Regions from separate parts of the Homo sapiens genome. Here regions 2, 3, 4, 5 and 6 are each reported to be linked to region 1. The links are microRNA targets in miRTarBase. Many come from high-throughput screens and were not tested one by one. Region 1 holds a microRNA gene; each other region holds the end of a gene's coding sequence. Distances are from middle to middle.

What was found. The annotated mature microRNA hsa-miR-340-3p reads UCCGUCUCAGUUACUUUAUAGC and lies in region 1 at 1,562-1,583, opposite strand. An mRNA with a match to its seed (bases 2 to 7 or 8) in the 3' UTR can be bound and repressed. Matches are read on the target gene's strand: a 7mer-m8 pairs with bases 2 to 8, a 7mer-A1 pairs with bases 2 to 7 and ends in A, and an 8mer does both.
Region 2: the mRNA of STOM is a reported target of hsa-miR-340-3p. Seed matches in the 3' UTR shown: 7mer-m8 at 1,249-1,255.
Region 3: miRTarBase lists EP400 as a target of hsa-miR-340-3p. The part of its 3' UTR that is shown has no 7-base or 8-base seed match.
Region 4: the mRNA of ZNF442 is a reported target of hsa-miR-340-3p. Seed matches in the 3' UTR shown: 7mer-m8 at 1,381-1,387.
Region 5: the mRNA of NUDCD2 is a reported target of hsa-miR-340-3p. Seed matches in the 3' UTR shown: 7mer-m8 at 1,165-1,171.
Region 6: miRTarBase lists ZBTB8B as a target of hsa-miR-340-3p. The part of its 3' UTR that is shown has no 7-base or 8-base seed match.

Annotation. Positions count from the first base shown.
Region 1 is chr5:180,013,758-180,017,757 of GRCh38, forward strand. It overlaps MIR340 (microRNA 340), which reads right to left and starts at 1,640; the gene lies at 1,546-1,640. The region is part of intron 2 of RNF130 (ring finger protein 130); the gene reads right to left.
Region 2 is chr9:121,337,819-121,341,818 of GRCh38, reverse strand. It overlaps STOM (stomatin), which reads left to right. Exons shown (of 7, transcript NM_004099.6): 7 at 411-2,832. The coding sequence ends at 617. Among named protein-coding and RNA genes, the nearest start is that of STOM, 30 kb to the left of the region's middle.
Region 3 is chr12:132,077,365-132,081,475 of GRCh38, forward strand. It overlaps EP400 (E1A binding protein p400), which reads left to right. Exons shown (of 53, transcript NM_015409.5): 53 at 37-3,096. The coding sequence ends at 309. Among named protein-coding and RNA genes, the nearest start is that of SNORA49, 48 kb to the left of the region's middle.
Region 4 is chr19:12,346,259-12,350,394 of GRCh38, reverse strand. ZNF442 (zinc finger protein 442) reads left to right here. Exons shown (of 6, transcript NM_030824.3): 6 at 1-4,136. The coding sequence ends at 694. It also overlaps a transcript of ZNF563 not described here. Among named protein-coding and RNA genes, the nearest start is that of ZNF563, 15 kb to the right of the region's middle.
Region 5 is chr5:163,450,717-163,454,852 of GRCh38, forward strand. It overlaps NUDCD2 (NudC domain containing 2), which reads right to left. Exons shown (of 4, transcript NM_145266.6): 4 at 1-3,334. The coding sequence ends at 3,251. It also overlaps a transcript of CCNG1 not described here. Among named protein-coding and RNA genes, the nearest start is that of NUDCD2, 7.3 kb to the right of the region's middle.
Region 6 is chr1:32,484,608-32,488,743 of GRCh38, reverse strand. It overlaps ZBTB8B (zinc finger and BTB domain containing 8B), which reads right to left. Exons shown (of 4, transcript NM_001145720.2): 4 at 1-3,643. The coding sequence ends at 3,326. Among named protein-coding and RNA genes, the nearest start is that of ZBTB8B, 22 kb to the right of the region's middle.

The DNA.
Region 1 (4,000 bases):
TATAGCATAAATTGGTACTTCTTGCACTAATCTAGGAACATTCATGGAGTACCCACTGTCTGTAGAACTAGTGCCAGGAACAAAAACAAGTACAGGATACCAAGCTTTCTAATCTCACTGAGACAGGGGACACACAGCTGGTAACAGAGCTACAAAGTGCCAAATGGTGCCACCTTTTATTAGTGACATCTGAAACTAACTTGGGTCTTATGTCCAGACTTGAGTGGAGTTGAGGCTCCTTGCTAGTTTACCCCAGAACTCTTCTGGAAATCAAACGTTCCAGAGACAGGTCCAGGCTTCAACATTCTGGACCAGTTTGGCATCGAAATACCTCCAGCCTCTAACAGTTGTCCAGAGGTCTGCCCACAAGCACAGGCTATGCAAGTTAATTACGAGGACAGTCTTAAGTTGCCTTATAGTTACCTAGACCTTTCCCCTACATAATTTCCAGAAGTAGTAACAGTGAAGGAATTGAATACCTCTTCCTATGGACAGCAGGAAACTGCTATCCCTTTCCTCCTCCACAAAGGAAATAACTTCCCACTGTCTTTTAAGGAAACAGAGAAACTTCTATCAATCTATCAGCGATTGTCCTTTCATAAGCTGAAGCTGCCGGTGGCAACATGTAGCTTCTACATTTGCCTTCTCCAGAGAGCCCCTGAGAGAGACTAGGGGTCATTAGAAGGGAAATAAATATTTTATTTTGGGAAAGAGAAAATTATAACCACTTATTTGAATTTGAATAAGGTTTGTACATATCAATGTAAACCAACAAAACAATCAAGCAGAAGTCCCCAAAACTTGTCCTTTTCAATCCTTCTTCAATGAATAACACATTGAAATATTTGGTTTTACATGTTTCATTTACCATATTTAGCTAAAAGAACCATCTTTGTGTTACATGCAGTCACAGAAGACTACACGCAACTGAAAAGAAATTCAACAGGGCTGGGCGTGGTGGCTCATGCCTATAATCCCAGCACTTTGGGAAGCCAGGGCAGGTGGATTGCTTGAGCTCAGGAGTCCAAGACCAGCCTGGGCAACATGGTGAAACCCTGTCTCTCACAAAAACAGGAACATTAGCTAGGCATGGTGGCACATGTCTGTGGTCCCAGATACTCAGGAGGCTGAGGTGGGAGGATCACTGGAGTCCAGGAAGTTGAGGCTGCAGTGAGCTGAGATCACGCCACTGCACGCCAGCCTGGGTGACAGAGCAAGACCCTCAAAAAAAAGAAGAGAAATACAACAGTAAAAGGAGTTTTATGGAAAATGTAACCCAATGGAACATATACCTTTTTACTACCTTACTCAAAATTGTTACAGCCACTTTATTAGAACAGCAGTTTACCAGAATACCGATTAAAAATCTACAAAAAACTATAAAATTAAAGCAAGCAATAAACATCTAATTAATATCTAATTACCTTTCTGAAATAAGAGTTGTGATCAGTAAATTAGAGACAATCACAAAATAATGCTAAACCGCTTTAAATTTCCCTTTAGAAATCTCTTAAAATGTTGTTCAACGGGCCATGATCTGTGGTATAAGATACCAGGTATGGCTATAAAGTAACTGAGACGGATCCCACAAACGACATATGACAATCAGTCTCATTGCTTTATAATCACACCAGGTACAAACGGTTTTAGAAATCAGTTGAGGCTCCCTCTTGAAGACTCAAGCTGGAAAAGGAGTAGGGAAAGGAGTAGGGAAAGGAGTAGGGAAAGGAGTAGGAAAGGAGTAGGGAAAGGAGTAGGAAAGGAGTAGGGAAAGGAGTAGGAAAGGAGTAGGGGAAGGAGTAGGGAAGGAGTAGGGAAAGGAGTAGGGAAAGGAGTAGGGAAAGGAGTAGGGAAAGGAGTAGGGAAAGGAGTAGGGAAAGGAGTAGGGAAAGGAGTAGGAAAGGAGTAGGAAAGGAGTAGGGAAAGGAGTAGGAAAGGAGTAGGGAAAGGAGTAGGGAAAGGAGTAGGAAAGGAGTAGGAAAAGGAGTAGGAAAGGAGTAGGGAAAGGAGTAGGGAAAGGAAAGCTGAACAGGTAGCCAAGGAAACCAATCCATGTGATTCTATTCAAAGAACACTAAATAAGAACACCAACTAATTTCAACGGGAAAGCTGTTTGGGAAAAGAAGTGTGTAATTATTTCAACCATCCATTCAACAATATTTATTGAGCACATACTATGATCAGGCTCCTTTCACCTCTTAAAGAGAGTAGAAAATTACCTGCTCTTGATGCAAAAATCCACACGCCCTCAGGAGCAAAGGGGGAACCTTTTGGACTAGGAAGAGAAGCCGCTCGCGGTGGCGTCATTACACCAGCACAGAGAAGAGCCGGGCAGAGGAGCCCGACCCTGCCGATCGGGCAGGAGGACAGCAGAACGAAAGCCCGCCACCAACTTGCAAAGGACTGGAGTTTTAGGTCTTAAATCTTTTACAGAATCTGGCGAAAGTTATATAGGAGTCCCCTCCTAGGAGAAAGGGCCTTCTCCCCATACTCCACCCCTAAAGCCTGATAGGGCTCAAAGACCCTGACCTAAAGCTGCCTCAGACACTTGACTTTTAAGGATCTGAGGAGCTCTGGCCCAGTTTCACGCCAAAGGAAATGTAGGCTTCACAATAAAGGGCCGGTCAGAGGAGGCAGTGACTGAAAAGAGTGAAGAATAATTAGACTGTAACGCTGTAAATATCAAAGCACATTTGGGACATGCCCCACCACTCCCATGTCCCAGGCCCTGGGCAAACACTGCTAGTAAGTCACGGATGCGGCCACGCTCCCACGCACTTCCACGTCTGGCCGCCAGTACTAACTGTCAGAGATGGCAATCCAGTGAAAGCCCATCTGTGATCCCTGCTTCCAACTATTTTCTTGAGAAACTTCCCCCACTGTTATTCTTTAACAGGAACTTCTGTTTCCACACTGCTTGAGTCTGGCTACTTTAATAAACAATTCTATTCTTTCCACTTTCATCCTGAGAATTTTCAAACCCATAGAGCAGTTCCAATACTGTGAGAACACTCATGGACCTTTTATTTAGATTTGTCAACATTTTGTCCTTTCTATATGTATTTATTTTTGCTGAACCAATTAAGAGTAAACTGCAAACACATGACATTTTATTCTTAAATACTTCCACGGTCCCTCCTAAGAACAAGGCTAGCTACGTGGCCACAATTCATTTACTTATCCTCAAGAAATTTAACCCTGTGTTCTTTAATAGATGGTCCATTTTCAGGTATCTGTGGTGATGACTTTAATAGCTGTTTAACTTGTTTAGTTTTGTGTCCAGGATTCAATCGGGGCTGTCGGCATCATGCTTAGCTGTCATGTCTCATTAGTCTCCTTTGATCTAGAATAGTTCCTCAGTCACTTCCGGTCCATTCATCACAACACTGACCTTTTTAAAGAGTCCAATCCAGATGTTCTGACCATGCCCCTCAATCTGGATTTGACTGTTTCCTAATGATTAGATCTCCAAATTAAATATTTCTAGTAAGAATACCACAAGGTGATGGCGTGTCCCTCCTCAGCTCGTCACTTCAGGAAGTGCAGGCCGGGTTGTACCTTTATTTTTGGTGGCAAATTTTATGACTTGGTTATTTTGGTATCTGCCAGGTTTCCTCACTGTAAATAAATGTTTTCCTCTTAATTAATAAGCAATCTGTGGGCTGATACTTCCAGATTGTGTGACTAGCCAGTTCCCCAAAAACCTTTCACTCAATGCTCTCAGCATCCACTGGTGTTTGCCTGAATCTGTTACGACAATGGTATTTGTAAAATTCTAATTCCCTAATGCTGTGATTTCTTCTACATTTTGTAAACTGATTCTATAATCAAAGGCATTAACAACACTTTCTACTTATCTTTGTTTCCCATTAAAAAAACAGAAATGCTGGGTGGGCAGTTTTTCGGAAAAGAGCCCCCCATCCCCATCAATTCTATTTTTTAATGAGGAAAAAAAGTGGGAAAATATGATAATACTGCTATAATCCTGACTACAAAATCA
Region 2 (4,000 bases), not on the chromosome of region 1:
TCAAAAAATATTTATAATGACCTGTCAGCTTTCAGTTTAGTAAGGTACTCATCAGAGAATTGGAAATGCTGCTGACTTGCAAAAGGATTTGCCTGCAGTCATTAAAGTTACTTGCTTTCTCAATCCTGCACAGTATTTTGAATTATCCCTTTGTTTGTTACCCTGGAAAATGGGAGAAAGGCTATAGTAAAAGAGAATGTCTTGATCCAGGCACTAGTCAGGCAAGTCAGTTTCAGAAAAAGAAGCATATGGAAACTGAGTATGTAGAAATTGATTTTCTTAAAACTACTCTGGCATACGCCCTAGAAAGTTTTGTGGACCACCTGAGGTATACATACCCCCGGTTGAAGAGTGCTGTGTGTCCCCATGAGGTTTTCTCCAGTTCAACCCCTCCTTTCACCTGTCCATAGGTTATTGCAGCCGAAGGAGAAATGAATGCATCCAGGGCTCTGAAAGAAGCCTCCATGGTCATCACTGAATCTCCTGCAGCCCTTCAGCTCCGATACCTGCAGACACTGACCACCATTGCTGCTGAGAAAAACTCAACAATTGTCTTCCCTCTGCCCATAGATATGCTGCAAGGAATCATAGGGGCAAAACACAGCCATCTAGGCTAGTGTAGAGATGAGCGCTAGCCTTCCAAGCATGAAGTCGGGGACCAAATTAGCCTTTAACTCATAAAGAGAGGGTAGGGCTTTTCTTTTTCCATATGTCAATTGTGGTGTTCCCAGAATGTATAGCAGTTATAAAAATAGGTGAAAGAATTGTTAGCTTGTAAATACTGAGAGATTGGTGATTTATATAAGGTAATCTGTTAGTCTTAAAATAGTTAAAAGTTTGTATTTTTAGATTATTATGTAGTAGGTTAGATCCCTCTTGTTTTGACTTCCACTGACTCATTCTGAACCCCCTAAGCACCCAGGCCAGAGGCAAGAACCTGGGCTGTAACTGCCACCTGACACCGCTGACTGGCTAAATGCTTTGCAGAAAGTGATGACCTTACACCACAACCAGCTTCTCCAGGTCATATGTGCCTTACCTCCAGAGAGTCTTTTTTTTTTTTTTTCTGAGATGGAGTTTCACTCTTGTTGCCCAGGCTGGAGTGCAATAGCATGATCTCGGCTCACTGCAACCTCCGCCTCCTGGGTTCAAGAGATTCTCCTGCCTCAGCCTCCCCAGTAGCTGGGATTACAGGCTCATGCCACCATGCCCAGCTAATTTTTGTATTATTATTATTGTTTTTTAGTAGAGACGGGGTTTCACCATGTTGGCCAGGCTAGTCACGAACTCCTAACCTCAGGTGATCCACCCACCTCTGCCTCCCAAAGTGCTGGGATTACAGGCATGAGCTACCACACCTGGTTTGGAGAGTCTTAATTAAGGAAATTTCCCTAATGTTCATTTATTTTCTAAATCCAGACCGTGTTTCAGAATAATCCTTACTTGAGAGTAGCCATTTTCTTGCCTGTACTTGTCAGAACTAGAGGAAATAGCCAAGACTAATGAAAAAGATTACTCTAACCCTTAAAAGACTTTTAAATTCACTACTAGAGTGGTCATTTTAAAAATACATCCATGTTTTAACTTATTTGAGCCTTCTTTATGAGTAAATGATTCCTCCTTGTTCTGTCTTTCAAACCAGCTAAATATTTGTCACAAAAGTGCTTTTTTCTCACTGTTGCCTATTTTCATATATCAGGTTTTAAATAGTTTTAATTTTTTAATAAAATTTTCTCTACGTTCTATATGCAATTGTTATATATCTATTTGAATAGCTGAAGGACTAAAATACTTTTTTAAGAGATAACTTCAGGAAACCATTATATTTTACTATCTGCATGCTGTTAACTGTGGTACACTGTGAAATATGTTGATTACAAACCCATTCATTACATAGTATAAGGAATTCACAGTATATTGACTATATAGTGTCTAATGATCTTGGGCAGATACTGTCAAACTTACAATATCTATATAGATGTAGGTCTTTTTAAATTTACCTAGTCATTCTTCTATCATGTATATTGATGCTGAAAGAGGAACTGGTCAGCTCCTCTGGACAACAAATTCTTAGTCTATAATATTAGGAGACATCTTCTGTTTTGCAAATGTCTGTGAATCTGAGCAACCTGGCATTCTGCTTACTGGCCAGAAAGCTGGCGGGTGACATTTGTAACATTTCCTCTTTGAGACTCTGAGTTCACCTAGAGAAGTCTAAGCATAACAGCTTTCTTTCCCAGCACGAGCCTTTATAGCTCTCTTTAGCTCAACCACTCTGTCCATCCAGCCAATGGATGTCCCTTCCCCTGTACCCCAATTTCAAGCTTATTTTAGGAAGCCTTGAACTACCATGTATCCTGGCTCCTAGCTGAGTTTATTAGAGGTATGGAGCAGTGCAACTTAAACTCAAGTTGCACTTACATTTTGAATTTTAAAATGATGGTTTTATCTGTTGTGTGAAGTGGTTCACCCTTGAGGACCAGGAGCCTCCATATCCTGACTGAAAACCTTTTCTGAGACTTAGAGTAACAGTGCTTTTGGTTCCTTGAGTTCTCCTGTCTCCAGATACCAAATGACCTTGACTTTTCTGCCTTGTGAATTCGTAGTCCAATCAGCTGAAATTAAATCACTTGGGAGGGACGCATAGAAGGAGCTCTAGGAACACAGTGCCAGTGCAGAAGTTTCTCCAGGTGGCCTCCCTTTCCAACAATGTACATAATAAAGTGTATGCACTTTCACTAATATTTTTGGGGTGAGAGTCTGTTTCGGCCTGTATTGAATGTCTGTGGATTTCCGTTTTCAGAAGTAGTACATTAGATCCTCCGGTTCTGAGCTGGCTGGTTGGCTTCTTCGTGTGCTTTGTGGGCCAGGGGAAGGGGACAGGCTGCTGTGGGCCATCTGCTGTCTCCCAGGTCCAGGCACCCTCTGGTGCACTGGCCCACACATTTTCCCTGGGGAGTTTCAAGATCCACACACACCCTCCACCACCACCACAAAGCTTTAACTGACTTCATTTTCTTTTGCCTTCCTCCAAACAGGACAGGAACCCACTTCTTGCTGTCACCCAGTTAATCACATAGACATAGCCTTTACTTAAAAAGAAACAAATAATGATAAAAAACCAATGTGTTTTACCTGCAACATCTGACAGAACTGTCTTGAATTAGTGGCTACCATTTGGGAGCACCAGTCACTCAGCTCTGTGCACAAATACGTGTATGTACATTCTATCATTTTATCTCAAAATGGTTTGATAGACACTTTATTATCACCATTTTGTAGATGAGGACACTGAAGGCTCAAAGGTTAAAACAGCCAAAGTCACATGGTCGGAAAGAAACAGAGCTGGGATTCAAACCCAGATCTGTCTAATGCCAAAGATTTGTGAGGTGTATCAGTGTATCTTCGTGTGACACTGCCTGCCTCTAGTGCCCCCATCCACACACCACCACCACCATTTTGTAGATAGATCACAACTTTTCCCAAGACTATCAAAGTTCATTTGTCTTTACATTCACACCTAACTGGGCCCTAAACTTAAACTTTTGTTTTGGGCCATCCAATTCAGCCAAAGTTCACTATAAAAAGAGGAGAGTCAATTGGGCATTTGTTTGTTTTTTTTTTTTCTTTGAGATGGAGTCTCGCTCTTGTCATCCAGGCTGGAGTGTAATGGCGTGATCTTGGCTCACTGCAACCTCTGCCTCCTGGGTTCAAGCGATTCTCCTGCCTCAGCCTCCTGAGTAGCTGGGACTACAGGCGCATGCCACCACGCCCGGCTAATTTTTGTATTTTTATTTTTAGTAGAGATGGGGTTTCACCATGTTGGCCAGGCTGGTCTCGAACTCCTGACCTCAGGTGATCTGCCCACCTCGGCCTCCCAAAGTGCTGGGATTACATGTGTGAGCCACTGCACCCGGCCCGATTGGGCATTTGTAACCACAAATGTCATAACACACTGTCCTGAGCAGGAGGAAACCAGTGTTCCATAGACTCTCAGCTT
Region 3 (4,111 bases), not on the chromosome of region 1:
CTGGGCAATGTGTGTTTTCTGACTCTCTCGGCTCAGGCTTCTCCACAGACTGTGGCGCTCACGCAGGCGACGGCGGCCGGGCAGCAGGTGCAGATGATCCCTGCAGTGACCGCGACTGCCCAGGTGGTTCAGCAGAAACTCATTCAGCAGCAGGTGGTGACCACGGCGTCGGCCCCGCTCCAGACTCCAGGCGCTCCCAACCCAGCCCAGGTGCCCGCCAGCTCCGACAGCCCAAGCCAGCAGCCCAAGTTACAGATGAGGGTCCCTGCTGTCAGGCTAAAGACACCTACTAAGCCTCCGTGCCAGTAGTCAGGGCAGCAGGGCTGCCTCTCATCTAAAGCAAAACTACCTTCCTCACAGAAAACGCTTTATTAGTGAACCTTGGGACCATGTCACGCAAGAGATTCAGCACTGGGAAAGATATAATTGAAACAAAATAGTGTAATCATTTTATTAAAATGCATCCCACACTGCAGGACAAATGGTCCTTATGGAGTGCCGCGTTCTCTGTACTACGTGGCTCATGGAAAAAGTGACAACATGGCTTCCTCTAAATCATTTCACCTTTCAGTCCCCACCCGCACCCGTCCCCTAGAGCCATAGTACTGTGTTCTGAAAGCCATTTAGAATTTCTTTGTGAGCATGTAGTGCTTTGCACGCCACAGAAGCCGTCTGCCGTGTGTGAGGAGCATACAATGGACTTTCTAAAGATAAGGCGTGGGCTTCCACAGTGTCTGCCAGAGTTTAGTTCTTTATACCTTACTGAAAAATGCCTCGTGGTCTTCGCAGAGGGGAAGGCCTGTCTAAAGTCAATCATCCGAGATGGGTTTTCCATTCCAAAGAAAGGCAATATGGTTCCTTCCTTCCCTCCTAAAATATGACTTAACTTTTAAGAGAAATGTTCTGACACCCACCTAAACACACAAGGCACGTTCCTGGCCTGTGTTCAAGGGAAATGATCAGTCATTGCATTGTTATTCCAAAGAGCAGCCAACAGTGGCCTCCCCCAGGCCCTACCCTGCAATGGGATTCGCTTTCATTTAATGGAAACTTCTGGGACTGATGCCCAACTCAGTGCACTCAAGACGCATCTCCAGTTTTCGGGGGAAGCTGGTATTTGACATAGTGTGTTAAACAGCTCCTGAGAACCTTTGGGACACTCTGCCATGGCTGGCGTGAGGCCCAGAGGACCACGCAGAGGCAATGGTAGTACAGATGTCACAGCTGAGGGTACGATGAGGCCTGGGCTCAGTGAGCCAGGACGAATGTGACAGACACCCCTTGCTGCCACAGTCAGCCCTTTGACGAAGGTGGGCTGGTGATTCTGGAAGTATTGGCTATAGCGGTGGGCCCAGTCAACTCTTCCTTGTGGACTTACGACAGCAGATTTTCTCTAGGATAAGCTTGTGTGGTTCTGCCAGTGAAGCAGAGAACCACCTGTGCTGTTGTGGAAGGCGTGCCGTTGAGGGGGAAAACGAAGCCCAGTATTTGCTACTGTTTTTCCTTTTTTTACTATGACAGGAAAATAAATGCAATTTTAGTGGAATTGATTGACAGTGTCTCCTTACTTTGAAGTTTTCACCAAAGCAAAAAGGTCCATATCCAATAGTATCCTTTGTGCTGTGGCTTGATTTTGGCCTATTTTACATTATTTGGTCCAGGAAATTAGGTTATATTAGGTTTTTTGTATACTAAAAATCAGTTATGGCACAATAAAGATTTTCTGTTTTTAAATTGTATTTCATCTGCTTCCTCCCCATTCTCTCACTTTAAGTGACATTGAGGAAGGTATTCTGTCCCACAGGTTTCTGTGGACAGCGATACAGCAGGAGTCAGTGAAATCAACTGGGGAGCTCACTTGAGCTCTTGATAAGAAATGTGGAGAAAAGTAAAAACCAAGCTTTGAAGAAACAGAAGAAATTAATCTTTTAGTTAGTTGAACATACCAAAGCAGAGGACTGGAATCTGTTTGTTCTAACCAACCCGTTCTCCCTGGCTTGGCACGTGCCGTGAGAGCGCAGCTTGCCGGAGGGAGGGCCGCTGTGTGCGCCTCACATCTGGCTCCCAGTGGAAACTTTTACTCCTCCTCATCCGCAGATGTGATAGAACTGAAGTATCTAGGAATTCTGCCTTTGTCATTTGTTTTAATTTGTGTGCCCTGTTCATTTTTTTTGTCTTTCCCAAATCTTGGTAGTCTCCTTATAGTTGAAGATAAAATGTTGAGTGCACTTATTTTAGAATATCCTAGACATAACTGTCTAAGTAAAAGCGCTCTATTAATCTAAAACACTACAAGAGAATTTAACACCATCTCTCAAATGCTTTTTTGGAGAGCTTAATGGGATTCTGAATATTTGCAATGTGGAGTTTCCGCCCCGATCTCACGTCAGTGAGGGTCTCCTGTCTCTCAAGTGTGTTTCCTTTGGCTGTTCCCTAATACAAAACACGGACATATTTTTACTCGTAGCACTCAATTTAGTAACTTCTAGATGCTACCGTTGACCTGAGTTAAATTCATTTAGTCGTGTACGTAAAAACTCTCCTTTTAGTGTGTTATTTTCTTGGCCTTCCCTTTTAAAGGTTAAAGTTTCTAACCTAAGAATTAAGTACGCGTTCAGGAAGCTGTTGTCTAGGCCTTCCCCTTGTGAATCTGGGTTCATTCCAATACGGCAAGTAAGAGTTGGAAACTTTGAGAACACAGACTATAAAGGCAGCAGCCCGAACACTGTCAGACTCTAATTGGCGACCCTGGGAAACAGTTGCCCTGCTATTCTTTAAAGAAAGACGTTTATTCTGATGATAAAAACAGTTAGCCAGACTGTTTTTAAAGCACCTGGCGGGAAGCAGAAGGTTGGATCCAAGCCCTTGTTCAGATTTGGTGCCTGATAAGACAGGGGTTTCTCTTTTTGTGACCTTTATTATTATTATTTTGTTAACTGTTGTAACCAGTTAGCTGTTGTGTTTTAAGATAGAAAGGAACAAGACTAAAATTGTAAATACTTTGTAAACATCAGCATTTGTACTTGAATAGTAGGATTTTAAAGGGCATTGATAGCATACCAAACAAAAGGCAAAATAAAGTGACCTTTTTATATATTTTTTCATTTTGTCTTTCATAGAAAACTGGTATTTAAGTTAAATGAGATGCTGAATTTTTCATTTGTGTGAAGAAAAAACCAACAAGTAATGTTGGAGCCAGAGGTGTTCCCCTCACCCACTCTTCCGTGGCCATAGAAGGACCTGGAAGGAACAGAAATCACATTCACCAAGTCCACCAGGCAGCCGCTTCCCAAAGCCGCACGTGGAGGAAAGAGCTGGCACCGCCCTGCCCCATGTGGCCTGCCACCCTCACAGCACCCGTCGTCAATGTCCTGGGGGCCACACTGGCACCAGTGTCCTTCCACACCCAGTCTGTGTGCCCAACTGGCACCAGTGTCCTTCCACACCCAGTCTGTGTGCCCAACTGGCACCAGTGTCCTTCCACACCCAGTCTGTGTGCCCAACTGGCACCAGTGTCCTTCCACACCCAGTCTGTGTGCCCAAGTAAGGGCAGGGACACCGGCTCACAGGTGCTCACCACCGAAAACGCCTGTGAGCAGATGGCCTGCGAGTTGTTGCTTCTCTTTTTCTTCTGCTTTTAGACTTTTCTTCGTTTCGTTTTAAATCTGATTACAAAAATCAACGTACACTTTTAATTGAAAACGCACACATTACGCAAAGTAAAGAAGCATCCCAGAAGCCCCTTAGTTTCTGTATCTTTTCTCCCACCACAAAAACGGGGGTGCACGGGCACTTGGCCCTGCAGCTTTGGGCTTCCACCTCCGGTCTTCCAGATTGAAAGCTCCCAGGGTCTGGTTGCACACTTCGTGTCTGCAGGTGATAGTGCAGATACCAGGGTGGGCGAGAAAGCCAGCTGCAAAGCCCGGCTGGTGCTCCCTGGCCTCTGGGGGTCTGTACTGCAGTGCCTGGTGCACCTGCGGCTCCATGCCTACCAGCCACATAACCAGGGGCAGGTGACTTCCTCCTTCAGGGCCTCTGTGTCCCCATGTCCCCTCTCCTAAGGTGGCTTGAGGATCCAGTCCAATGTTGGGTGCTGCACTTGGTGTCTGTC
Region 4 (4,136 bases), not on the chromosome of region 1:
AATGCACACTGGAGATGGACCTCACAAATGCAAGGTATGTGGGAAAGCCTTCATTTATCCCAGTGTATTTCAAGGACATGAAAGGACTCATACTGGTGAGAAACCCTATGAATGTAAAGAATGTGGTAAAGCCTTCCGTATTTCTAGTTCCCTTCGAAGACATGAAACAACTCACACTGGAGAGAAACCCTATAAATGTAAATGTGGGAAAGCCTTTATTGATTTCTATTCCTTTCAAAATCATGAAACAACTCACACTGGAGAGAAGCCATATGAGTGTAAGGAATGTGGGAAAGCATTCAGTTGTTTCACATACCTTTCTCAACATAGAAGGACTCACATGGCTGAAAAACCTTATGAATGTAAAACATGTAAGAAAGCCTTCAGTCATTTTGGTAACTTAAAAGTCCATGAAAGGATTCACACTGGAGAGAAGCCATATGAATGTAAGGAATGCAGGAAAGCATTCTCTTGGCTCACTTGCCTTCTGCGACATGAAAGAATTCACACTGGAAAGAAATCTTATGAATGTCAACAATGTGGTAAAGCCTTCACTCGTTCTCGTTTCCTTCGAGGACATGAAAAAACTCACACTGGAGAGAAGATGCATGAATGTAAGGAATGTGGGAAGGCACTGAGTTCTCTCAGTTCCTTGCATAGACATAAAAGGACTCACTGGAGAGATACTCTATAAATGTGGAAAAGCATTCATTAATTTTATTTCATTTCAGAAACGTGAAAGAAATCACATAGGAGATAAGCCTCATGAATGCAAACACATGGTAAAGCCTTAAGATGTTTCTTTTGAATATGGTTATCCCCTAACCATATGCAGGGGATTGGTTCCAGACCCCCTAAGCATACCTAAATCCACAGATGCTGTGTTCCTTTTATAAAAGGACATTTGCATGTAACCTATCCACATCCTCCTGCATCCCATAAATCATGCCTAGATTACTTAATTTTTCACCAACCCAAAGCTTTTGTAAAAGTAAAAATAAAAAGTAGGTTACTAAAATACCTCATGTGTTGTAAAAGCTATGTAAACAGTCATTTTATTGTATTTTTTTTAGAGAATCGTGATATGAAAATAATCCTGTGCTGTTGAGAACAGACCCAACCATCACAGGCCTGCCTACATAGTACATGTCACCTAGAATGTTACAGTTTCTTTTTTTCTTTTTTTTTTTTTTAAGACAGAGTTTCACTCTTATTGCCCAGGCTGGAGGGCAATGGCACAATCTCAGCTCACTGCATCCTCTGCCTCCCGGGTTCAAGCAATTCTCCTGTCTTAGCCTCCTGAGTAGCTGGGATTACAGATGCATGCCACCACACCCAGCTAATTTTTTTTTTTTTTTTTTTTTTTTTGTATTTTTAGTAGAGACGGGGTTTCATCATATTGGTCAGGCTGGTCTCGAACTCCTGACCTCAGATGATCTGCCTGCCTTGGTCTCCCAAAGTGCTGGGATTACAGGCATGAGCCTGTAATCTACAGTTTCTTTTTTTTCAACAATCATAGATTGCTTTTATTTAATGACCTGGAATCGTGTGTTAACACTTATGAAAATCCTGATCCTTCTTGCTTGATAACCCAAGGATGATGATGATGATCATGATCATGATGATGCTGATTACAGTATGGTGCCTAATATGATTCACTGAGGTGACTAGATGGGTGGCACTGTAGATAAACAGTGAGACATCAGGCTCACTTGAATCTTGACAGGATGTCAGGATGATCATCTGTGTTGGATGAACCAGGTTCTGATTGCAGATGCTGAGTTTGGAAGAGACTAAATAATACTAATGTCAGAATCTGTTCAGCATGAGGGCTGAAGATGTGTACACACTGAAGGATCTGTCTTCATATTTGCAGATATTTAGTTAGAAACATTGTTGTAGGAAGCTGGTTCTTTTTCTTTAAATATCCTTGCAGTGTTTGTTGGCATGTTATCCCTTGGGTGACACAGAGGTTTTGTTCCATTGAAGGATCTTACTTGAGGATGGCAATCTTTATTTTATTTTTATTTTTATTTATTTATTTATCATTTGAGACTGAGTTTCGTTCTTATTGCCCAGTCTGGAGTGCAGTGGCGCGATCTCGACTCACTGCAACCTCCACCTCCCAGATTCAAGCGATTCTCCTGCCTCAGCCTCCAGAGTAGCTGGGATTACAGGCACTCGCCACCATGCCTGGCTAATTTTTATTTTTAGTAGAGATGGGGTTTCACCATGTTGGTCAGGCTGGTCTCGAACTCCTGACCTCAGGTGATCCACCTGCCTCGGCCTCCCAAAGTGCTGAGATTACAGGCATGAGCCACCGTGCCCTGCGAGGATTGTAATCTTTAATACTTTTCACCTTGCAGAGGCTGTAGATGCCCCAAAAACTGCTGCACATGTTTCAAGTGTCACATCTTTGATATTACCTCTTCTAAGTCTTCTGCATCATCATTATCATCATTATCTGCAGAGAATTTCAGTATATCTTCGAGTTCCTTGTTAGTATTTATGCTCTCTTATTTGTGTTGGGATAGAAAGATTAAGGAAAGGAGAGATGAGAAGGTGGCTCAACAGTTGAGACAGTTTTATTGGGAGTAAACCTGAGAAGGGCTTCCAGCGGCAGGGTCAGGTGCAAACTTCTCTTACAGCCTGAGGCTTTTTTAAAGGGCCCAGTGGAGAAGTGTGCTTTGAAACAAAATTCTGTTAGGGAGGGGTTGGGGAAGTCCTGGCTGTTCTGTTACAGTTAGGGCCGTTATTCTCTGTTGAAGTTATGGGCGGGGCTGACATTTTCAGTTTTGGCCAGGTGGCCAAATAGAAACTTAAAGCTTAGGATGGTGGAGTGTTATAAAGATGGCGGTGCTCTTGTCCTGTCAATGTGTTCCTCAATAAAGTCTTCAAGCATGTCATAGATTGTTTTCCCCACCAACCTCCCTTGCAGCATTTGAGATATTCCTGATACTTCATCAATAGTGGAGAAGCTCCTGAAATCATTGACTTCCTCACTCCATAATGGTTTCCAACACCCAATGAAGTAGTAGGAGGAAAACATGGGTTTCTTCTCCTGGAAGCCTCCAGAAGAAGGTATTTCAATATGGGGAGAGTGGTCAGCTGTGTCACAGGTCACTGAGAATTTGAATAAGACAAGGAAAAAGGGTTGACTGTAGATTTTGGCAAGTATTTGGTCACTGGGGGCCTTGATAAGAGCTGTTTCATTGAAGTATTCATGAGAATAACTTGTAGTGAAATATATCTCAAATAGACCTCCACGATGTTGCCTAGAGGGCAGTGTTACCCTTTGAACTACCAACATTAACCACTGGAACTGCTCATCTGGAAGCCTCTTACAGTGCTGGTACAAACTAGAATACACAAAGGAAGGGATCATTTTATACGTGTTACTGTGCTACTTGCTCTATCTACTTAGTGTTCCATACATGTAATTACCTATTCCATCCTATCCCAAAGTACTGAAAATCTCCATTCTACTTTCTCTGTCTGTGAATTTGACTATTCATAGAGAGAGAGATATGTGGAAGTATGCATGTGTCCTTCCATGTCTGGCTTATTTCACTTAGAACGTTTTCAAGGTTTATCCATGTGGTAGCATGTATCAGGAACTCATTGTTTTTGTGTCTGAATAAATTTCCACTGTATGGTTAAAGCATACTTTGTTTATCCATTTTTATGTTGATAAACATGGGTTGTTTCCACAGTAATAATTTGACTGCTATCAATAAGGCTGCTGTGGATGTGGTATGTCTATGTCTGTGTGAGTCCCTGCTTTCAATTCTTTTGGATATATGTATCCCTAGGAGTGTAATTGCTGGTTCACAGAATAATTGGTGTAAACCTTTTTCAGGAACAGGTATATTGCTTTACAAAGTGGCTACAATGTTTTACATTCTCTCCAGCAATGCATAAGGGTTTCTATTTTCCACATTGTCACATATACTGGTTGTCGTATTTTTTTCATAATAGCCAATTAATGGTTCTGTACTGCTTTTTCATTGTGGTTTTGATTTGCATTTCCCTAATGACCAATAATAATGCACATTGGTTTTTGTTTTTGTTGGTTGTTTATATATTTTTTGAACCAGTTTGTTTTAAAATCCTTTGCTCATTAAAATTGAGTCATT
Region 5 (4,136 bases), 17 Mb from region 1:
GAAAGTAAAAAGATGTAGCTGCTTTGGGAAACAATGACAGCTCCTCAAATGATTAACATAGTTATCATATAACCTAAAAATTCTACTCCTAGGTAAGAAATGAAAACACATATGCACATAAAGACTTGTACACGTTTATAGCAGCTTTAGTCAGGACAGCCAAAGGGTGGAAATACCCAAAATGTCCAACTTACAAATGTATAAACAAAGTGCTACAGCCATACAATGAAGTATTTTCAGACATACTAATGAATGTGCTGATACATGCTCGAATATAGATGAACCTCTTAAGACATGTAAAGTGAAGGAAGCCAGTAACCAAAGACCACGTATTATGATTCCATGTACATGAAATGTCCAGAATAAGGAAATCTATGAGATGAAAAGAGGTAGTATGGATGGCGGGGGATGACAGGAGAAGGATAAAAGCTAAACTATACAAGGTTTCTATCTGAGGTGATGAAAACATTCTAAAATTGATTATTGGAATGGTTGCATTTATCTGTGTATATACTAAAAGCTACTGAATTACACACCTTAAATGGGTGAAATGTATGTTGTTACAATAAAGCGTTTTTCTTAATTATATATGATCCCATTTATAACATGCTTGAAGACAAAAATATGGAGATGGGGATTAGATCAGTGGTTTCCAAGGTTTAGGGGCTGGGAGTAGGGTGTGTAGAGTACAAAGAGAGCACGAGAGTTTTTACGGTGATTGAACTCTTCAATACTCTGACTGTGGAGGTGTTTACACATATCTATACTTAAAATTCACCAAACCATACACCAAAAAAGTTAATTTTACTTTACTCAAAAAATTTTGTTAAATGTCAAAGAGAATAAAATTAAAAGAAAAATAGCCTCTTCCCCCGACAATTCATTCCTAAAATGAGCAAGATAGGAATCACAGGGTGAATGGACTGCCATGGCCTGGAGTGAGGTATTAGGGTCCAGGCAGGATGAGGAGGACATTCCTGCTCAGCATAGGATGCGAAGCCTAAGCAGGGTGAGGAAGACATTCATGTGGGGAGATGACCTACAATAGAGAATCAGGCCAGGCGCAGTGGCTCACACCTGTAATCCCAGCAATTTGGGAGGCCCAGGCGGGCGGATCACCTGATGTCCGGAGTTCGAGACCAGCCTGACCAACATGGAGAAACCCCGTCTCTACCAAAAATTAAAAATTAGCCAGGTGTGGCAGCGCATGCCTGTAATCCCAGCTACTTGGGAGGCTGAGGCAGGAGAATCGCTTGAACCCAGGAGGCGGAGGTTGCAGTAAGCCGAGATCGCGCGACTGCACTCCAGTCTGGGCAACAAGAGTGAAACTCCACCTTAAAAAAAAAAAACCCCACAAATAATCAAATAGGAATCAGGTTTCTCACTGGTACTGAAAACGGTTATAAATGTGGAGAAGGAAAAAATGAAAATGAAGCCCATGGGATCAGAATTTATATGTGAATTCATGGTTTTCAATATACATAGATGCAGAAATATAGATGTAAAGACATGCATTATATATACACACCAACGGCAATTGCACACTAGCACAGATCTTGGCTTTTAAATATTACTCACTAAAGAGAACCCAGGCTCTACGGAAAAATGGCTGATTCTTGGGTTAGGTCGAGGACAGCATGAGAAGCCTGGTATATCTTATGCCAGAGAGTAACAAATTCATTGAATAATGATGGGAATGTGTCAGAAGGACACAGAGGCCACCCAGAATGGACTTCTACCAGCCAAATGTACAATAATTTTGAGCACCAATGTAATGATAATAGGTTTTTTAACCTGCTGAATAAAATAGAAAATAATGAGTTTATAGAGATACGATAAATTTAAAGTCTGATCAGAAACAAGGTAGTATTTTGCAACTATCTTCTCAAGAAATAATTATAAAAATAACTACAGTGGAGAAGTCTGGCAGACACTACCTTAATCAGTCATCTAAGAAACACCATCAGAAATGAGACAAACTGAAATTATTAAACAATGACAGGATGCACTTCTATCACATTCCTGCCAAAGATGAATAACCTCAATCTAATCATGAAGTATCAGACAGAACTCAAAATAAGGGGTGTTCTACAAAACTAGCCCATAATTGTCAAAAGTACTAAGTTGTAAAAGGAAACAAATGAGAATTTGTTCCAGAATGAAGTAAACTAAAGACAGCTGACATCTAAATGAAAGGCATGATTCTGACTGGATCCTCTTGCTATATGGACATTATTGGGACAATCAGTTCAATGTGAATGAAGTGAAGATCTGAGGATTAGAGGGTAGTAATGTGTCAACGTAAATTTCCTGATTCTAATGGTTGCATTGTAGTCATGTAAGATAATTTGAAGCAGATAGTAATCAGTAATGAGGAATCATGTCTTCAACTAAATCACAAATGGTTCAGAAAGAAAAAAATTATCTGTAACTTTTCTATGCATGAGATTTAAAATTTTTTCAAGAGTTAAAAAGGGCAAAAAATAAAAAGGACATAAATAGGATATTGAATAAAATGTCTATAGACAATTCCTACCTATATGCCTAAATCACTTACAATCAAAATGATGCCACTGATATACAATTAGTGACCTTACTTTGCTTTCTGCCACAAAGGACTCACCTAATTACCATGATCACACTTCTCTTTTGTGTTAATCCACTTCTATTGTTAGGGTTTTAACTATTTTTAAACTTCTTGACATAAAGTAATCCCTCAAGTAATAATATTCTAATTAAGAAATTTACATTAACTCTTAATTTACTTAAAATACATTTATGGACTTTTTCCTTTATTAAAATTGTTTTCAGCACTATAATTTTGTGTGAATTGTTATACTTAGACAAAGGGGTACACAATTCCTATTTAGAAAATTTTATTGAATATCATACTTATCAAAAGAAAAAGTTAATTTTCCCCAAAGGCACCCTTCATTTCACATGATCTATACTCTAATGTTCTTTTGTATTAAAAATATGGTTAAATATGGAATTAGTAAAATGCAGCATATAAAACTTCATGCTGAGCAAAAACAAGTCCAAAACAACTTTACCATATATCCATAGAATAGTTCCCACAGTACATTTCCTATGTAAATTATGTTTGAATGCAATTTTTAGAACCATTTTAAGATACATTTTGCAATCTGTTAACTGTAGGCATCCGCATTTTTCTTCCATTACATAATCTGTTTATCTGATTAAGTTGGCAATATCTGCTAGGATCCACAGAATGCAGGAAAAAAAGCAGTTATTTCTCAAGGTTTGAGAAATCTGGTCCACCTTTAGTGTAGTTTCCTGAGATTTCTGCTCCACTGAAGTCAAAACCAGGATTCTAAAAGATACAAACATATATATAATGAAATAAAACTTATAAGGAAAAATACAAGTACAAACTGGCAATTGATAAAAAAGGATATATAAATGACCAATAAATACATGAAAATATAACAGACTTCACTGTTACCACCAAAGTAATATTTAAAATTATGAGGCATTTTTCAACTCTCCCAGTTACAAATATTTAGACATCATATGTACACTACAATGTTGGCAAGTGTATGGGGAAACATATACTTCAATAAAAGTCTGTAGTTATATTTAATAGCTAGCATTTTTATTTTATTTATTATTATTTTTTTTGAGACGGAGTTTCGCTCTTGTTGCCCAGGCGGGAGTGCAATGGTGCGACCTCAGCTCACCATAATCTCTGCCTCCCAGGTTCAAGCGATTCTCCTGCCTAAGCCTCCCGAGTAGCTGCGATTACAGGCATGTACCACCATGCCTGGCTAATTTTGTATTTTTAGTAGACACGGGGTTTCTCCATGTTGGTCAGGCTTGTCTTGAACTCCCAACCTCCGGTGATCCGCCTGCCTCAGCCTCCCAAAGTGCTGGGATTACAGGCGTGAGCCATGGCGCCCAGCCTATAGCTAGCATTTTTTGAGAGCTTTCTATATGCCACACAAATTTCTAAGAGCTATACATATATAAGATATTTAACCCTCACAACAGTCCTGTGAAGTACTATGTCAGGCCTTAGTCTTTTTGGTGGGCTATTTCGTTTATCCAACAAACATTTGTTGAGCTCCTACTGTTTGGGAGACCATTAGAGGTATGTAGAATTCAAGAGTGAAAAA
Region 6 (4,136 bases), not on the chromosome of region 1:
AAATAGAACACAAAATTAAGTCCACTCATTAAAGATCCTTTAAAAAATCCTACTTTATCTTACAGCAGAGTTTCTCAACATTGGTATTACTGACATTTTGAATTGGAGAATTCATTGTTGTGGGGACTGTCCTGTGCATTTCAGGATGTTTGGCAGCTTCCCTGGCCTCTACCCACTAGATGCCAGTAGCCACCTGCAAGGCACGAAATCACCCCCAACTGAGAATCACTGTCCTACAGTGAAATCTCTAATGTAAAATGTTTTACCCAGGGATATGAAGAGGTCACGGAATCACTGAAGAGGATCATAGCTCCACTGGAGAAAGCAGGCAAAGAGGCTGAACTATGAGGTAGAAAAGTCATTAAAACATCAGAGATAATTTAAACAGAGAAAGCAAAAATATCAAACACTGTTCCTGGCCAAGTAAATCTTCTACACATCCATTTAGGTTTCCTTTTTGCTGAGATCCCTCTTTTAAAATAACAGCAAATATATGTATACATTTTTGGAGACAGTTTCGCTCTTGTTGCCCAGGCTGGAGTGCAGTGGTGTGATGTCGGCTCACAGCAACCTCCGCCTCCTGGGTTCAAGCGATTCTCCTGCTTCAGCCTCCTGAGTAGCTGGAATTACAGGCATGCGCCACCATGCCTGGCTAATTTTGTATTTTTAGTAGAGACGGGGTTTCTCCATGTTGGCCAGGCTGGTCTTGAACTCCCGACCTCAGGTGATCCACCTGCCTTGGCCTCCCAAAGTGTTGGGATTACAGGCGTGAGCCACTGCGCCTGGCCACAGCTAGTATTTTTATTTCAGATAAGACAAATATCTCTGGTCCCTGATAATTTTCAATGAGTAACTCTTGATCTAGAATATTTTTCTTTTATTTATTTATTTTATTATTATTTTTTTGAGACAAGGTCTCACACTGTTGCCCAGGCTGGAGTGGAGTGGCACGATTCCAGCTCACTGCAACCTTTTCCAGGCTCAAGTGTTCCTCTCGCCACAGCCTCCTGAGTAGCTGGGATTACAGGCACATGCCACCACTCCTGACTAATTTTTGTATTTTTGCTAGAGACGGGGTTTCGCCATGTTGGTCAGGCTGGTATCGAACTCCTGACCTCAAGTGTTCCATCTGCCTTGGCCTCCCAAAGTGCTGGGATTATAGGCGTGAGCCACCGCACACAGCCAAGAATGATATTTATCGAACTACCTGTGATAAGAGAAGTTTTAAATTTTCCATTCTACTGCAGACCAATACGTGGTCCTGCTGTACAGGCTGGTATCCAACCTCTGCACCATGTGGCCCTCTAGCTGACCAGAACTGAACTGGTCCATACCTCACTCAAGAAGACAAAGCCATGAGTCACAGCAATGTCAAAGTGTTATCAACATTTCTATATGTGTATTCTTAATTTCTGACTTTCCTTGTAGCAGACTGGTAGAAAACAGTTTACAGAACAGGGCCTCTCTGTGGGCCAGAGTTTGAGTTGCACTGTTCCAGTTTTAACTACTATTGAGAAGTACGACTTAAACACCTGTCTAATGCTTTGGCTAACATTTACAAGCCAATTTATAATGTTTTTGACTTTTTTGTTGTTCAAGAGGTAGAAATAAAAGTGACTTTTACCACCTTTTGAAAGACAACTACACTTAAAGGAAGACAAGAAGATTTCTTTTAAAATCCATTTTGGATATTTTAACATAAGACAAAATTATGGAAATTGCCTTCAATTACATTCCGAATTCCTAACACTGCCTGCCCTTTAGCCCTTTAAAGAGTTCAGCCTCTTTTGTTACAATAATTGTGTGGCTGGAAAGTGGGCGAAAGGTAGACTGCTTTTAAAAACCTGTTCTGCTACTAACCTTCCCTTTCCCTCATGAAGATCTTTTAAAAGATGAACATTTTAGAAATGTTACTTGGCATTATGGGCTTATACTTTCCCTCCAATTAAAGTTCTAGGCAAGGAGGTAGAAGGCAGGACTCAACTCCAAAGGCCGGACTCGGACATGGACCAAATTGAGGACTAGCTAAAACAGGGCGGTGGTGGGAGGGTGGTGCAGGAAGCAGATTTCCATAAGAAACACTTATCACTGTGCCATGTCAATTACCATTGCCATGGCAACACCTGGAAGTCACTGCCCCTTATCATGGCAACCACCCAGCGGCTTGGAAGTTACCACCATTTTCCTAAATATTGCTGCATAATCTGCCCCTTAATTTGCATGTAACTAAAAGTGGGTATAAATATAAGTGCCGACCTGCCTCTGAGCTACTACTCTGGGCACACTGCCTATGGTGTAGCCCTGCTCCACGAGGAGCGGCCCCTTAGCTGCTGTTGGGCACTGCTGCTTCAATACAAGCTGCTGTCTAACACCACTGGCTTGCCCTTGAATTCTTTCCTGGGTGAAGCCAAGAACTCCTCTGGGCTAAGCCCCAATTTTTGGGCTCACCTGCCCTACATCAGCATAAACTAAGTAAAAGAATGCCAGAGGCAGCTACATTTCCAAGTTACACAGCTCCAGCTTTTGGAAATTGCTGGAAAAAGTAGGGGAGCATTTTGAGTTTTGCCCAAATGAGTTGTTTTATGATAACAGAACAGGTTGTATGTGTAGAATCGTCAAATGCCAAACCAGACAGGGAAACCATCCAGACCTGGGGTCATAGCCTCCCTTCTCAGGGCTAACTTAAAATTTAATTCAACTGGGCAAGTCAGGATGCCATAATGAGCCTTTCAGATCATTCCCATGTTCGTCTGCCCATAAGTATTCCAAGCCTTTAAAATTGTTCTAGATTTAGGGAGTACCTTTTATGATCATGTAGCCAGACCGCCCTGCCTGCTTTATATCAATGAAGGTTTCTCTTTAATACTTTGCCAGAAAATTTAATGTGGAATTCATTAGGAAAGGCTTGGCAAAGGTAAACTTGATCCCAAAACTTAATGGTTTTTAGAGAAAGAGGATGATAACAAAGGAATGCAGAGGACTGAATCAATATAAAAACAAGCCTGGAGATTTTCTTATCTTTCTCCTAACCAGAGTTTGGACACACAGCAAGAAAAACAGGAGACCTCAGGGCCTGCTTTGACTCACTCAGAATTAAGGAGTGGCCAGCAAAGCCCTCAGAAACCAAGGGCACCACACAAAAAGGTTATCTGTCCTTTGAGTCACAAAATCCAACCTCTATCAGATAGTCTAATAAAAATGCACATATAATAACAGTGAAAAAATGTTCCTCTCAGGGTTCCACAAAATTGGACAAATGGTATCTTTCAACAACAGAACGAGCACTAACAAGTTTTAAAACCTCCTCTTCCCCACCAATTTATTGCTACGTAAGTGTCTCTCGGTCTGATAAGTTAGGCTGAATTTGTGGTTTGTCATCAGAATCATCTCCAGCAGGGTCATTTTCCTCACCCGACTCCACATAGATTGGCCAGTCATTGTCTGTGTCGCTCTTTTCTTGGCTTTCAGATGAAGCCTCCACCAAGCTAAGGTTGATGGGCATCAAATCATCATCATCATCGGGTGTGTCTGTAACGCAGGTGCAGCTGTCACACAGCCCGAAGCGCCGCAGCCCCTGGGACAGGTGACTCGTGAATGTTCTCCTGCAGCCCTTGCAGATGATTGGACGGTTGGATCTGTGGACCTGTAATCACAAGCAGACACAGTAGATGTCACAGAAAAGGAGATGAGTGTTTTCCACAAGGCCCCGTGTGATCTGGCCCCTGCCTGATCCTCCCGATTCCTTTTTCAGCACTCCACCTGCATTCTCTGCCACAGTCTTTGTATTAGTCTGTTCTTGCACTGCTATAAAGAAATACCTGAGACTGGGTAATTTATAAAGAAAAGAGGTTTAATTGGCTCACAGTTCCACAGGCTGTACAGGAAGCATGATGCTGGCATCTGCTTGGCTTCTAGGGAGGCCTCAGGAAACTTACAATTGTGGCAGAAGACAAAGGGGGAGCCGGCACTTCACATGGCCAGAGCAGGGGGAAGAGAAAGAAGGGGGAGGTAACACATATTTTCAAACAACCAGATCTCATGAAAACTCACTATCACGATGACAGCACCAAGTAGGGATGGCGTTAAACCATGAGAAACTGCCCCCATGATGCAACCACCTCCCACCAGGCCCCACT